2 separate regions of the Homo sapiens genome follow, and region 1 is linked to region 2. The links come from fine-mapping of genetic effects on gene expression. A gene starts in region 2. The other region holds a variant in brackets. All regions are shown on one strand. Distances are between the middles of the regions. Region 1 holds the start of LOC124901695 (a long non-coding RNA gene). Region 2 holds the start of FZD1 (frizzled class receptor 1).

What was found. PIP is the estimated chance that this variant, and not a neighbour inherited with it, causes the effect.
Region 1: its variant is fine-mapped to the expression of FZD1 in whole blood (TOPMed, PIP above 0.99). The same link has a PIP of 0.9 or more in blood mononuclear cells.

Annotation. Positions count from the first base shown.
Region 1 is chr7:91,286,205-91,289,110 of GRCh38, reverse strand. It overlaps LOC124901695 (a long non-coding RNA gene), which reads left to right and starts at 1,679. Exons shown (of 2, transcript XR_007060425.1): 1 at 1,679-1,804. The variant C/T (reference allele first, on the strand shown) is at 1,136.
Region 2 is chr7:91,263,014-91,265,919 of GRCh38, reverse strand. FZD1 (frizzled class receptor 1) reads right to left here and starts at 1,487. Exons shown (of 1, transcript NM_003505.2): 1 at 1-1,487. The coding sequence starts at 1,039. RefSeq lists silencers at 743-802, 893-1,402 and an enhancer at 1,523-1,702.

The DNA.
Region 1 (2,906 bases), 23 kb before region 2:
TAATATAGATTATTATCTGTATATAATATATACAATGCATTATACAAATGGGAAGTATAAGAATTATTGTTACCAAATGCACAAATAGTATACATTCTAATCCAGTTTAACCTTCTACAATTGACCTGATTCTTACATACACATAAACCTAACCAAAGAGTACCATATACTGTATCCTAAATTGATCAAGGTTCTAATTAGGAAAAGGAACAGGGAAATTAAGTTGAAAAGCCTTCTGAGAATACTGTTGAGCTTCTCATCTTTGTAACACATTTTATTCCTGGGTAGTCAATAGATATTTTAGTGGCAGAGCCCCCCTACCTATTCTGCTTACACCCTGCTCCCCGTGCCACTCACTCTTAGCCACTCTCCTCCAAAGTGCCCCACCCTGGCAGTATTGGGCTATCCCTTCTTGGGCACTGTCCCACGCTCTGATAAAACTTATCTGCCCTGTGATCCATTCTTTCAGAACTTTGCCATCTCCTCACTAAGAGAACAGTATCCATGTGCAGATGGCATAAATGCCATTTATTGATGACAAGTTAATGTATGACCTCTGGCCAGGTGTAAGCCTGGGCCCATGAAGCAAGGACTACAGCATCATTGGCAACTGTCCTTCCCCATAGTCAAGTAGGACCCAGCAGGAACCAGTTATTGCTTCTTGAACTCAGGAGTGCCCCCTGCTGGGATCCTACAGTGTTCCCCAATCTTCCTCGGTGTCAACCTCTGTGCCTTGAAATTGATGGCAGCTGACATTTATTAACCACTTGATATGTGTCAGGTTTTATTGTAAGTGCTTTAATTCATGTTTTAATTCATACAATCACCACAACAATCCTGTGACACTGAAATGATATATCAGAATGGAAATCAGCTGACTATCAGTCCTGGATACAGGTTTTATTAATATCCCATCTTGACATTTTGAAGGTGAAGAAATATGCTTTTATTCGACAAATATTTTTGAGCTCCTACTATAACCCAGGCACTGTTCTAGGCCCTGAGCATACTCCTATAAGCAAAACACAAAAACCCCTGCCTTCATAGAGCTTAGATAACTGTGAAGTTAATGAAGAAAATTTTTTGGCAGTGATCTTAAATCAAACCAGACAGTGAGCTACTTCCCCTGCTGGGC[C/T]TTGCCTGTCACAGCTGAAAAGCTGCTTCTCAACTTGTGTGGAGCTATCAGAGTTATAGTCATTGGACTGGCAGTCCAGCTGCTCTCATAGATGGCTTCAGCTCCAGCTTCATTTGCACCCCTGTGGGCACTGGGAGGTGAGTTGCCAAACTTCTTCTCTCATAAAGGCTCCAAGAAGTGGGCTGGGACAACGCCAGAAGAGTTCATAATTCTGTCTTTACCAGCTCTGTGGACAGAGGAAGAGTGCCGACGCCAAAACGTTAAAAAAGTTATAAAGTCACTTGGAAAGAGCTTAAAACAAAACAAGTACACTTTGCAATGGAAATTTCCAGCTACATGTAAGAATTTACTAAAGACAGAACCTCAACTTAGTTTTAAAAAAGAAGGCAACTTCCCTTTGTGAATTAGGAACAAAGTAAATTAAGATCTTGATCTCATGGGTACTCTATTTATAAAGAAACATTCTACCATTAGCATTTTGACAGGACTGATGTGGCCAGCTGTGATGAGGAAGCATTGTGTTTGTAAACTTTACCTCCAGGCTTTTAACATTCAAATGTCCCTTTGAACCTTGGAAGGCTACTATCTCAGAGAGAAAAAGCAGAAAATCAAATAACTAAAGTGAGGGCACATCAGAACTGCTGGGACAGCATGGCCTTGCTAAGGAAGGTAGGCTGCTCTGGGGTCGCCAGTGGATGTTGAATAATTTGCAGATGTAATTTTCTAAACTGTGATGTGGGGTCAGGAGGGGGATGATGGTTGGGGGGACTAGGGTCACCCTAACAATGTAAACATTATGCTGCTATCTTTGCCCTCGTACTCGATTTTTATTTCTTCTGGTAAATTATAGTGTCTTATATTTTTCTGATTTTAAAACAGTACATGGTTAGAATAAAAGAGCAAGCATGGCAAAACTAACAATCGAAGGTGACAGTCCCTCATAGTGTGACAATGCATTCCAGTTTGTCCAGGGCAGTCATAGTTTATATCTGTTGTCTTGGTGTAATTATTAGTAGCAAATCCTTCATTTTCAAAGGCATCTCTGTTTGTACAATAAATTACATGTTACTCTATTCATAACCTACACCCCAGGCAGGCTTAACTATGGTTAACTCTTTCAGTCTATTCTCAAAATTCACCCTTGCCTACTAAATTCAGGAGCTCCGAAAGGTGTTTCACATGTGCTCAAGAGCATAATCTTCACAATCACTGTATGACGCCCCATCTTTCCTTCCCTGAGATTTGCTCTGGCAGTGTGCAGCATCTGTGCGGCATCTATGAAGGCACTCCTGCAGCCCCTCTGCTGCCCCTGTTGGCACTGGGCCACCTCCTTTTACTGTCAAAGCCAGTCAGCCCCACCTGCACTGATGACGCAGTAACATGATACCTCCAGCGAACCAAATCCACTCAAATTGCTGCCAATGAGCCAACTCTTTCTGCTCCACGAAGTCATAATGAATTCTCCAATGAAGTAGGGCACTTTTCATGGTGCATTTTATCAATGTAGTGGCACAGCATGCCAAAGATTTTCATTAAAATAAAAAGTAAAAGAAAAAAGAAAAATCTCTTACAGATTTTTTATGAAAACAGCCCTTTCAGTGTTCATTCTCAGGCTGCCTTCTTAGTTGGCTTTAAGGGTAGATCCACGGGTACTATTGGTGTACATCCCACTCCTGAAAGTTGAGCACTGATCTTCCACCAAGCTGGAGGGATTTGACTCTGGCCTAAGGTAAGTTATTCCCCAGGAGATGCCTTGGTCCTCATTAAAAGA
Region 2 (2,906 bases):
GCCGCATGTCCACCAGGTACGTAAGCACCGTGAAGAGCGTGGAGGCGCAGCACAGCACTGACCAAATGCCAATCCAGGTGCGCGAGAAGCGCAGCTCCTCGGGCCCGAAGTACATGAGCCCATACACCTTGGTCGGCTCACAAGGTGCGCCGCAGTCCTTCTCCCCCAGGAAGTGGTAGTTGAGGTAGGAGGGCACCTTGAGGGCGCGCGGGCAGGAGAACTTGCCTCGCTCCGACGCGCCGGCGCCCCCCGGGAAGCCGCCACGGTGCCCTCCGCCGCCGTGCTGAGGGTTGCTGGTCCAGAACTCTGGAAGCAGCGAGGGCGTCGGGGTGCCCTTGTCGGACGTGTTCTGGCCCACGCACAGCTCGCCGGCGCCGTGCACCGGGAACTTCTCACACTTGAGCGTGTCTGGCCACTGGAAGCCGAACTTGTTCATGAGCGCCTCGCAGCCCTGGCGCGCGCGCTCGCACAGGGAGCGGCAGGGCGGCAGCGCCTGCTCTAGCACGGTGCACACGGGCGCGTACATGGAGCACAGGAAGAACTTGAGCTCAGCGGAACACTGCACTTTCACTAGAGGGTAGAACTGGTGCACCTCCAGGCCCGCGTCCTCCTGGTTCGTGTGGCCCAGCAGGTTGGGCATGATGGTCTGGTTGTACGCGATGTCCGTGCACAGCGGGATGGAGATGGGCTGGCAATAGCCGTGGTCCGGGACGGAGATGCCCCGCTCGCCGTTGTACTGCTGCCCGCTCTGTTGCTGCTGAGGCGGCGGCGGCGGTTGCTGCCCCGGCCCGGGCCCCTGGCCTGGCCCCTGGCCCGCCGCCTGGGCCCGGACCCCCAGCAGCAGCGGAGCCTCCAGCAGCCAAAGCAGCAGCAGCAGCTGGCGCGCCAATCGCCGGGGGTCAACTGGCGGGCGGCGGCGGCCACCGGCGTCCCCGCTGCCCTCCTCCGCCAGCCGGGCCGAGAGCGCCCCGGCACAAAGTTCCCAGCTCGCGCCACCGCCGGCGGCCCGGGACTTCTTAGGCGCCTCCTCCTCAGCCATACTTTCTCGGCTCCTCTCTTGGCGCCGCTCCGCTGGGGCTGCCAGGGGCACGGCCGGCGGCGGCTCCCCCTGCGGCCAGGGAGACCTCTGCGCGGGTGCCCTCCGTCGAGCCCAAGCCGCTTTCGGCCCGCTCCCCCGGCTCCTGTTCTGCGTACCGCAGCCGCCGCCGCCGCGGAAACTTGCGATTCATGAAGCGCGGGCGGCGGGGAGAACCCGGGTGGCTAGGGCGCGCCGGGGTCGTGTCCCGCCTTCCTGGCCCTCGGCTCGCTGGCTCCCGGCTGGCGGCGCCGCGCTAGTGGCCGCGGCCCCGTAGAGAGCGCAACTCTCCGCAGCCCAGCGGGCTCGGCTCCCCCCTGCGCCTCCGCCTCCTTCTCCGCCGCCGCCGCCTGACCATTTGTGTCAATCCCTCAACTCGCTCCCTCTCCTCTGCCTCGCGCGCCCTCGGACCGGTTTCCAGGCGCCCCGTAGTCTGTCTTTCACCAGGAGGGAGGAGCCTTGAAACCGACGCAGAACTGGAGGCTCAGGGACCGTCGCCCAATCGCGGCTCCGGCTTCCCGGCGCAAAGGGAGCCGGCCGCCTCCTCGCCAGAGCGAAAGCCAGCGGCAGGAGGGCGGGGTAGGAGGAGGCGGGAGGAGGAGGAAGTAGTGGTGGTGGCACTACTCAGGCACAAAGAGTAGGATTGCTCTGAAGCGGGACAGGCTTGGTTGCTTTTGCTTTTTCAGAAGAAAAAGGCGAGGATACGTAGGAGAATGGTCCCATATGCTGCTGGAGATAATGAATAGGAGTCAGAGGACCGCGGGACTTCGCTTTTCTTTTATTTTATCCATTATCATGTTTAAAAATCCTGCTCTTAACGCTGGTTACCAACAGCAAACCGGGTTCTGCTTCCAGAACAGATGCCTTTGACTTAAGGAGCGCACGGTTTCCTTTGAGTTTGTGTCTGTCGAGGTTTTGTTTAACATATTACATTAATAAATCCTCCAGTTCGCAGGCTGGGCTTGGCGGGCTTTGGTCGCGCCATTTCCCCAGAGGAGACGTTCACGGGATCGCTGTCAAATGAAACAAAACACAAACTTTGATGGAATTTGGAAAGTAAAGCCAGATGCGCCTTCTGCTACTATCATTCTTCTTGGAGTCAAACTCCTTTTTTTCCGCCTCTTTAATCAAGTCAGAAACAGAAGCAAAAGAAAACTATCCATTAAATTTTTGGAGAGAAAAACTTAAGAACCCGACGACCGAGGCAGTGGGGGCGCCTCTCTGGGATCGTCCTCGCCGCTCCAGACCGCAGAGGTGGCGCCGGCGGGAGCTGCACTCGCCGGCAGCTTGGGCCCCTGGGGAGCCTTTCTAAACCCTGGGGACGCCCACGGCTCCGATGGGAACTCCTGGGACCTGGGCCATTTAGGTTCCACAGGCTGGGCTGCAGAGCTGGAGACGCCAGTTTAATAAACAAAACAAACAAACAGTCTGAAAGCAAACAGCGAACTGCACATTCTCTTCCTAATTCCAAAACAGCATAATCCGTCTCAACAGACGCACATTAATGTTGTTTTCCTTGTAAGATTATTTTAAATGATGGTTTGACTATGTAATTCAGTTTTATAAGAAAAGTGCCATTGGACTATTAATTCTTCCATTTTTTTTTTTTTTTTGCCTGTGATCAGACTCTATCTCAGCGTACTTTTCACCAATTACTTTCTATCATTCATTTACACATTCATTTGTTTAATAGATACCAACCACCCATTGTGCTATAAGCACTCTTAGGTCGTAGAGTATAAAATGAAGGAGACCTGTGCCAGCCTTAGAGAGGGGCATAGTACAGTGAGGCACAGAAATGCAAATCACTTGTTACAGTGTCCATCCCAAA